Regions from separate parts of the Homo sapiens genome. Here regions 2 and 3 are each reported to be linked to region 1. The links are microRNA targets in miRTarBase. Many come from high-throughput screens and were not tested one by one. Region 1 holds a microRNA gene; each other region holds the end of a gene's coding sequence.

What was found. The annotated mature microRNA hsa-miR-5693 reads GCAGUGGCUCUGAAAUGAACUC and lies in region 1 at 1,419-1,440, shown strand. An mRNA with a match to its seed (bases 2 to 7 or 8) in the 3' UTR can be bound and repressed. Matches are read on the target gene's strand: a 7mer-m8 pairs with bases 2 to 8, a 7mer-A1 pairs with bases 2 to 7 and ends in A, and an 8mer does both.
Region 2: miRTarBase lists TMEM40 as a target of hsa-miR-5693. Seed matches in the 3' UTR shown: 7mer-m8 at 1,691-1,697.
Region 3: miRTarBase lists PHLDA3 as a target of hsa-miR-5693. The part of its 3' UTR that is shown has no 7-base or 8-base seed match.

Annotation. Positions count from the first base shown.
Region 1 is chr13:51,346,396-51,350,015 of GRCh38, reverse strand. MIR5693 (microRNA 5693) reads left to right here and starts at 1,377; the gene lies at 1,377-1,449. It overlaps SERPINE3 (serpin family E member 3), which reads right to left. Exons shown (of 10, transcript NM_001386375.1): 5 at 2,782-2,991; 6 at 1,605-1,803. It also overlaps a transcript of INTS6 not described here.
Region 2 is chr3:12,732,269-12,735,268 of GRCh38, forward strand. TMEM40 (transmembrane protein 40) reads right to left here. Exons shown (of 12, transcript NM_018306.4): 12 at 1,260-2,525. The coding sequence ends at 2,506. Among named protein-coding and RNA genes, the nearest start is that of TMEM40, 25 kb to the right of the region's middle.
Region 3 is chr1:201,465,943-201,468,942 of GRCh38, reverse strand. PHLDA3 (pleckstrin homology like domain family A member 3) reads left to right here. Exons shown (of 2, transcript NM_012396.5): 1 at 1-602; 2 at 2,765-3,000. The coding sequence starts at 157. The coding sequence ends at 540. Among named protein-coding and RNA genes, the nearest start is that of PHLDA3, 1.7 kb to the left of the region's middle. RefSeq lists enhancers at 1-84, 306-445, 516-575 and a silencer at 1-235.

The DNA of each region.
Region 1 (3,620 bases):
CCAAAGTTTATACCTAAATCTAGACCTAAGAGAGTTTTTACTTTTTTTGTTTTGTTCCCCAAAGGATTTAAAGCTAGCTTAAAAACAAACAAAAAAAACTTGGTTAGTTTTACTTGTGAAATAACTTCATTTTCCTAAAAACCTCTATCCTCCTTGGACAGCAGTCTTGGTAGTCTTAAGGAGATTTAAAAAAAATTATCAGAATGAGGTTAAGTGCTAACTAATAGTTGTGTTACTAAGATTTCTGCCTTGCCTTGCCTTCCCTGCCTGCCAGTGTTTTTCAGTTTTCAAACTGCTTGAGGGTTTGAGACTCCTAAAAGCAGAATCAGGACGGTGGAGAGTTCTCAGTGGAGCTGGGAATTTCCCCGGGGTCTCTTCCAGGGAAGAACTGCTCGAGGATGAGTCCCACCATCTGTCTCTTAAACCCAAAAAGGTTGTGGCGAATTCTCGCACCAGCCTCCTTTTTCTCTCTACTTTTGACACGGAACGCTGCTCTTCCTTCCCTTGCTGAGTTTCTCTCAAATATAATAGGAAGATTAGGGTTGCTTCTGCTCCCTCCCTGAGAGATCTGTTGAAATATCCAGTATTTGGGTTTTGGTTTGGGGTCCAAATATTTAGTTTTGAGAGATACACTTTACCTTAGAGTTAAGTGCACCTTTTGCCCTGGGTTATGCCAGATCTCACTTTAGACCTTGGCCCTTAACTTACTGGGTCTCTCTTTGTATTTTTTCCTTCTAGTGCATAGATTTACTTTTAACTCCTCAAGGGAGTACTGCCAAGGACTTTGCCTTTGCCTACTGGAAGCCCAGGCAGTGGAGAGAGGCCAAGGCATCTAGTGGCTACTGGACAACATTCCTTGCTTAATGCTGGTCAAAAAATGGTTATAAATTTACTCTGATTTCAAATACATCACAGAAGCTCATCATTTAAAGAAGCCCTAAGAGGAGTCTTTTTGTAAAGTTATGAGTTTTGCTAATAGATTTTGTTTTGAAAAAGCAACATAGAATGCCACCACTTCACTTTTTGATTTGTATTTGTACCTATTGGGTCTTCTTAAAGGAGAGTTCACCTCCATTTAGAAAGAATGAGAACCTTCTGCACAGAGACTTAAAGTGTCAAAATTTTATGCCTTAATTTGGCGTCTGATCAGAATTTTATCTGTACTTGCTCAATTACGTAAGTCATCTTATCTCTTTGGTTTTGGAAAAATGACAGTTGTATACTCTTAGGATGGGATAAGATTTGGGCAACGTTCCTACAAGGGAACCACGAGCATTTCCTTTCCAAAAACTGGTCCAGCCTAGGGCTGGATCAGGGGGTCCTGGGGGGCTCCATTCCAGCCCAGTGAAGGCAGAATATCTTGTCTTGGAAAGACTCTGGGAAGTTAGTTCATTTCAGTCTGTGCTGTGAGCTAGCCAGCAGTGGCTCTGAAATGAACTCAAACTCTAGGGTCACTTCCTCTTGGTCTAACTTCTGGGGATACATATTAAACAAGTCATCCCAGTGGCTAAGCACAGACCCTGGAGGCAGACCACCTGTGTGCAAATCCACGCTCTTCTGACTGCTGGCTGCACAGCACCTGTGAGGGGGACTCAGCTGCTCACCTGGGCAGGAACACATCCATCCTGGCTCTCCTCAGGCTGGTGGTCCAGAGGTGGATGGTGCTGGCTGTGAGGTGTGGCTCGATGTGGCTCAGGGGGGTGTCTTTGTCACGGGGCAGCACCAGGAACAGACTCACTGCACTTCCCAGGTAAGGAAGCTCCAGCACCCCCACCTGATGGCCTGCAGTGTCCTGGAACTGACCTGAGGGTACAGTGGATCAGAGGTCAGCTCTGTCCCAGGAGCCAGGAGAATGAACCAGTGTCGGACCCTGAGAGAGGCTGGCTCAGAGGACTGGAAACAATAAAACCGAGCATCCACCTCACCCTCAGGAGGCGGTTTCAGGCCAAAGACTGTTGGGCGATATGGTCATTTTATAAAAATCCTAGACCTAGAGTCTTTAAGATACCCTCACAGGACCAGAGTTAGAGGTTCTCTAGGACTGGGTATGGGGGGGGGGACGATGGCACATGCAGAACCACATAGAGTAGTGCCCCCTTATCCTTGGCAGATATGCTCCAAGAACCCCAGTAGAGGCCTGAACCTGTGGATGGTAACGAGCCCTGCATATACTATGTTTTCTCGATCTGATGACTGAGATGGCTACTAAGTGACCAACGGGCATACTGTAGACAGCCTGGGGATGCTGGACAAAGGGATGGTTCATATCTCAGGTGGAACAGAGAAGGACGTCAGGAAATTTCACCACACTATTCAGAAGGGCGTGCAGTTTAAAACTTGAGAATTATTTGTGAAATTTTCCATTTAATATTTTCTGATGCGGATAACTGAAACCTCAAAAAAGCAAAATCATGGATAAGGGTACAGGGTACTACTGTACCCGATCTTAAAGGAGCAGCCATTCAATCCCGGCCTATTGTGCCTGCCAGGGTGGCAGTTTGGTCCAAACTCTACTAGTGCAGAAGGAAATGTCAGGCATGAAACTGAGTTTCTCTTCCACATCTGTGTCCTCACTGTCCTGTCAGAGCACACTGTCCCACACTCCTCTCTAAAGTCTCCGGGCACCTTAGTCTTTCCTTCCGCCATGCATGCCCAGTCCAGCAGATGGACCCTGCGGAAACACATCCCGATCCCTTAGGAGCAGGGACCTGGCCTCCTCTCTCCTGCCCTCAGGCCCAGGCTTCCTCTCCCTTTAGACAAACCAGCAGGGGCAGAGCTCACCGTAGTTGACCTCGGTCGTTTGGTGCATCATGGGGACCTGAAGGACGAGGCCATAGGCACAGGTGAAAGGCAGGATCTGTGTGTCTGTGGAGGAGAATCTCTTTCGCCAAGTGCCTTGGAAGGACATGGTGCTCACAAGCACAAGCTGAGCAAATGCTGCACTGACTTGCTCCCACGGCCAGCCACCAGGGCCCTCACTGGGGCCCCCACCTGCAAGCAGGAAAGCAAGGTGGCCATGGGTTAAATGTGCATTGAAACTGAACCGAACCCAGTGTGTGTGCGGACAAGGAGTGCAGAGTTAAAATGCGAAAATGCAGGTCTTTTTGCTTAAGGTGGTCTCTCTCTTCATCTTACAATATCTTTTTAGTCTACTTAAGAATATTTAATTCCCTGTCTCAGCTCCTTGTGCTGTCAGGGACCCAAGGCACCAGGAGCTGCTCTCAACTTTTGGGGACTGTTGAGCGATATGGTCATTTTATAAAAATCCTAGACCTAGAGTCTTTAAGATAACCTCACAGGGCCAGAGTCAGAGGCTCTGTAGGGCTGGGTATGGGGGCGACAATGACAACCCCTGCTGGGGGATGAGGGTGTGGAGAGGGAAATGGAAAGTGAGAACTCAGAAGTCCTGACACCTGGGTGACCAGTCAGGGGAGGTGGGGGCAGTGAGTCATCTCTGGAGTTGGGTTGGTAGAGTATTTATTAAAATATGTTCATTGCAAATTGATATGTGTTTATAACCAGCTGTTGCTGAAGACCCTGCTTTTTATTCTTTTCTGAACAGGTTGGGATGCTGCTCCTGGTTCTGTTTGGGGCCATTTCCTAGGAATTATTAGACATTC
Region 2 (3,000 bases), not on the chromosome of region 1:
GCCCATCTCGGCCTCTCAAAGTGCTGGGATTACATGTGTGAGCCACCACACCTGGCCCCGGCCTCTCACTTCTAATAGCTACAACCTCTTTCCTTTTTCTCTCTAGCCCTAGGCAGTTCCCTCAGTTACACTTTGTGATACTATGGTCCCTTTCTGCGTTTCTAGTAGTCCTGCACCTGGTTAACATGTCCCTCTATTAAATTCTTTCTGTTAAAGCACCTGGTGTGGTTTTCGTTCGCTTGGCTGACAGATCCCACTTAGCTGGTGTTCTCACCTGGAATTGCTAGACAGCAGCTGCCCCCTTTGGTCAGGTATATGCTCTTCTGTTCCCCTCTTCCTGCTCCCTACTTTTTTCATTTTTATTTTTATTTTTTTGATACCGGGTCTCGCTCTGTCACCCAGGCTGGGGTGCAGTGGTATGATCATGGCTCACTGCAGCCTTGACTTCCTGGGCTCCAGCGATTCTCCCACTCCAGCCTCCCAAGTAGCTAGGTCCACAGGTACACGCTACTACACTCCTGATCTCAAGCAATCCACCCACCTTGGCCTCCCAAAGTATTGGGATTATAGGTGTGAGCCACTGCACCCAGCCCCCACTTTTCTACATCTTGCTGACTCTGTATGCCTGACCCTAAGGGGATCTGATTTGTGCTCCTGTCTAATGTAATAACGCCCATTGATTGAGCATCACCTATGTGCCAGAGTCTGTGCATAAGACTTTATGTAATTATCTCATGCAGTTCTCAACATAATACCGTGAGGTGGGCACTGTTATGCTCCCCATTGTACAGATGAGAACATTAAGGCTGGGAGAGGGGAGGACTTGACCAAAATCACAGCCAGGGCCAGCATTGGTGGCTCACGCCTGTAATCCTAGCACTTTGGGAGGTCGAGGCAGGTGGATCACCTGAGGTCAGGAGTTTGAGACCAGCCTGGCCAATATGGTGAAAACCCATCTCTACCAAAAATACAAAAATTAGCCAGGTGTGGTGGCAGGTGCCTATAATCCTAGCTACTCAGGAGGCTGAGGCAGGAGAATCACTTGAATATGGTGGGTGGAGGTTGCAGTGAGCTGAGATCACACCACTTCACTCCAGGCTGGGCAAAAGAGCAAAACTCTGTCTCAAGAAAAAGAAAGAAAGAAAGAAAGAAAGAAAATAAAATCACAGCCAGGCAGTGGCAGAGCTGGCCACAGGGACCCATCATTCCTATAAAATGAGGCTAACCACATTGTTCCCAAGTCAGTAAGTTCATACTTCTATCGTGAAAACTGTGTTTTATTTATATGTTTAATAAATATCTGATCTGTGCACTCTGGGCTCCCGTTAAATTAGGTTACATACAAGTACTTGAAATCAAAACCTCAGAAGTTACCCTTCTGAGTTTTGAGAACAGCATGTCTGTGACCATCAAGAACTCAGTTCAAGTTCAGGATATCAATCACATAGCATGGTGACCATAGTTAATAACAATGTATTGTATACTTTGCAAATTGCTGACAGTAGGTTTTTACTGTTCTCATCATAAAAAAAGGGTATGTGAGGGATACATATGTTAATTAGCTTGATTTAGCCATTCCACATATTTCAAAACATGTTGTACACTACAAATACATGCAATTTTTATTTGTCTTTTTTTTTTTTTTTTAATTTTAGAGAAACGATCTTGCTCTGTCGCCCAGGCTGGAGTGCAGTGGCTTGATCGTACCTCACTGCAGCCCTGAACTCCTGGGCTCAAGCAGTCCTCCTGCCTCAGCCTCTTGAGTAGCTGGAACCGCAGGTATGTACAGGTATGTACCGCCACATTTGGTCATTAAAAAAAAATTGTAGAGATGGGGGTCTCACTATGTTGCCCAGGTTGGTCTTGAACTCTCAGCTTCAAGCGACCCTTAGCCTGAGCCTCCCAAAGTGCGAGGATTACAGTTGTGAGCCCCCATGCCTGGCTGCCATTTAGTTTCTGATGATCATTTTCCTGCCTTTTTTTTTGGGTGCAAAAAAAATGGTTTTAGTCCTCAGCATCTTACCTGCATCAGGTTCACCAAGGGGCCCCAGCCCGATGGCTCCCTGCCTCAAAGCAGTGGACCATCCATCTCTCCCAGGATGGCTCGGTAGCACCTGAGAGCGCATGCAGATAGCCTGGGATTTGAGAAAAACCATGAACCCAGACAGATCACAGCTTGCAGAGCTCAGGGTCCCTTGCTGTCCTCTGAGAGCAGTGACCTCCCAGAATCTTCCTGCTGGTCCAGGTACTGTGAAGCCTCAGGCCCCACACCCACCCTCTGCCTTCCATCCTTGCAGCTGGGTTGCACAGCAGTACTGCCCAAATGAGATGCCCCTGCCCGGGCTGGTGCCAACATTCAGACCACATGGAAGGAAAAGTGTTCTGTTTATTGGTCTGGCTTGGTCTCCTGTGCGTCTCTCAGAATGCTGCTCTGCCCTTGTGGGCTCAGGGGTCGCAGTGGTGGTCACACTGGGGCCTGCCTCTGCTGCCCACCTGGAAGTGGCCTCAGTCAGTCTTCCTGAACCCTGGAAGGCAAAGACCACAGGATGGCATGGGATTCTGAAGGCAGCCAGGCTTCATCCCCACCATCACCTCAGATGCCCAAGTACCCCTCACAGCTGGCATGATGTAGTCACCCCAGAAGCCATGGGTCTCAATGAACCACAGTCATAATAGCTAGTTTTCTTTTTCTTCATTACATGGATTAAAGGAGACAGATATTTCCCCAGCACAGCCACACAGCCACTTGGCCTCTCCATTCTGAGGCATAAGGTGGTCACAGAGCTGTTAGTCAAGAAAGACGATGTGCTTTCGCCCAGCCCAGCCACTAAAGCTGTGTGACTGTGGGCGAGTCACTCCACCTCTCTGAGCCTCATTTTCCTATTGGTCAAGTGTAACATTGCTAAAGCCTACCTCCCCAGTTGCTATTAGGCAAGTACAGCCATGGAGAAGACAGCGTTTGGGGAAGTGTAAAGTTCTATAAGAGAATGAAGACTAACC
Region 3 (3,000 bases), not on the chromosome of region 1:
GCTGAGGGCCGCGGTGTGGGTGCGCGGAGCAGTCAGGGCGCAGGTGGGCAGCGCGCACGGCCTGCCAGCCCGGGGCGCCAGAATCCTGCGCTGCGGGGCCGAGAGGGGCGCCGCGCCCGCCGCAGCCTGGAGCTTTCCGCGAACCTCGGGGCGCCCATGACGGCGGCGGCGACGGCTACCGTGCTCAAGGAGGGCGTGCTGGAGAAGCGCAGCGGCGGGCTGCTGCAGCTGTGGAAGCGGAAGCGCTGCGTCCTCACCGAACGCGGGCTGCAGCTCTTCGAGGCCAAGGGCACGGGCGGCCGGCCCAAGGAGCTCAGCTTCGCCCGCATCAAGGCCGTGGAGTGCGTGGAGAGCACCGGGCGCCACATCTACTTCACGCTGGTGACCGAAGGGGGCGGCGAGATCGACTTCCGCTGCCCCCTGGAAGATCCCGGCTGGAACGCCCAGATCACCCTAGGCCTGGTCAAGTTCAAGAACCAGCAGGCCATCCAGACAGTGCGGGCCCGGCAGAGCCTCGGGACCGGGACCCTCGTGTCCTAAACCACCGGGCGCACCATCTTTCCTTCATGCTACCCACCACCTCAGTGCTGAGGTCAAGGCAGGTAAGCCCCCGGGGGACTGGGCCCTCTTCTCTCCTTCCCTCCCTTCTCTTTCCCCTACAGAGAGAATGAGGACTAGCATTCTACTTCAGAGCCGGACATCTTAGGGGGGAGGTTCCTGGGGCCAACTGAGGGCATGGGAGGCTTGGGCCAGTGGCCAACCCAGCAGATCCGGACTTTCCCCTGAGGCACCAGGTTGGCCGGTCCAGAATGTGATCCAGGTGTGTGAGAGGAAGATGGAAGCCCTGGGAGGGGGATACCTGGGTGAGATGAGCCTTCTTTCAAGTTGGTTCAGCCCTGACTCAGGTGGAAGGAAGTAGAGGGAGGTTGGCCTGCACATTGCCCCAGGCTGTGGGCCTCTGCTTTCCACGCAGAGCAGGGCTCCTGGACTTCGGCTTTCTGGCAGCTGAGGACAACCGAGGGTGGGGACGCGGATCGTGGAGGCCGACCCTCTTTCCCTCTAGGTTGAATGCTTGTCATAAAGTTTGAGCATTGAATTGATGTAGAAAGACAGTATCTCCCAGATGGCGAAGGCACCATCAAGGGTTGCAAATAGAGCCAAGGAGTCCGGCTCCCAAGGTGGGGCCTCAGTGGAAGGTGGGGCCTCAGTGGGCCGCCTTGGCTGGACTGGGCCTGAGGGATCCAGCTCCTCCTCTACATATGTGTGTGTGTGTGTGTGTGTGTGTGTGTGTGTGTGTGTGTGTATGGTTTGTTGTTGTTGTTGTTGTTGTTTGAGACAGAGTCTCGCTGTGTCACCCAGGCTGGAGTACAGTCGTGTGATCTTGGCTCATTGCAACCTCTACCTCCTGGGCTCAAGCAAATCTCCTGCTTCAGCTTCCAGAACAGCTGGGATTACAGGTGCCTGCCACCACACCCTGCTAATTTTTGTATTTTTAGTAGAGATGGGGTTTCGCCATGTTGGCCAGGCTGGTCTTGAACTCCTGACCTCAGGTGATCTGCCTGCCTCGGCCTCCCCAAGTGCTGGGATTACAGGTGTGAGCCACTGCACCCAGCCTATATATATATTTTTGAGACAGGATCTCTACCTGTCGCCCAGACTGGTGCAGTAGCATAGTCATGGCTCACTGCAGCCTCAACAGCTTCAACCTCTTGGGCTCAAGCGATCCTCCCACCTCAGCCTCCAGGTAGCTGGGACTACAGGCACACGCCACCATGCCTGGCTAATTTTTTTTTTTGTAGATTTGGGGTTTCCCCACGTTGCCCATGCTGGTTTCGAACTCCTGAGCTCAAGCAATCTGCCCACCTTGGCCTCCCAAAGTGCTAAGATTACAGGTGTAAGCCACCACACCTGGTCCCCATTCTTGACAGTGGGTTTTGAGCCCTAGGGCTCACTGTTAGGAGAGCAAGGGAGCTGAAGGATAGGCAACTGCGCCAGAGGCTGGGCCACTGATGCCAAGGGGTGGGGGCCTAGCTGTCTACCTGCCCCTGAGTGCCAGTCAGGCCTGGCTGGGCCAGGGAAGGAGAAGCTGGAGGAGGGCATGGGGCACTGGGGCAGGGTGGGTGGGTGCAGCAGGATGGGGTCATGAGTTGTTATTTGTGATGTCTTAATCCTCTATGAGCAGTAGGGCAGGGAGTGGGGGGCGGATTTGTGGTCAGGAAGGCCCAGGGGAGGGGCCAGGAATAGAATCTGGAAGCCCTGGCTCTCAGCCCTGTGCCCTCTTCCCCAGATGCCACTCCCTTCTTGTGAGAAGTAGGAGTAGGGCTGAGAAAGGATTTAGCCTTCCTTCTAGCCTTAATTTTTCCAGTGGAAACCTAGATCCTTCTCTCCCCACTACCACCTCCTAGGCGACCTTACCCGCCTGCAGATGTCTTCAACAGTAGAGAGTCCTAGTGAGCCTGGGGCCCCATCTAGTGCCATACCCCACTTTGATGGTCCTGTTAATGCCCTCCCACATTGTAGTTAGGGTTTAGCTGAGAAGTGGGGTATAAGGCAGACCCCCTGTGCTGAGGATTGATCCACATTGATCCCTCAGGTCTTGGGGGCCTGGGAGGAAGCAGATTCCTTTACCACAGTACGTATGCAAAAAATGTTTTCCATGTTTATGGAAAAGGCTGGGAAGTGCTGGTGTAAAATGCCCAAGCTCATAATAGATACTCCTTTCTCCATTGTTGCCCCTGCTCTAACTGCTGTTCTTTCTTGCCAGCTTCGTTGTTCCCTCTGGCTTGTGGGGGCACGGCTGTGCTCCATGTGGCAAGGTGGAAGGCATGGACGTGTGGAGGAGGCGCTGGAGCTGAAGGAATGGACGAGCCCTGGGAGGAGGGCAGAAGGCTACGCAGGGCTGAGGATGAAGATGCAGCCCCTGGATGGTCCCAGACTCTCAGGACATGCCCAGCTCAGGGGCTTCGAGCCACAGGCCTGGCCTCATATGGCATGAGGGGG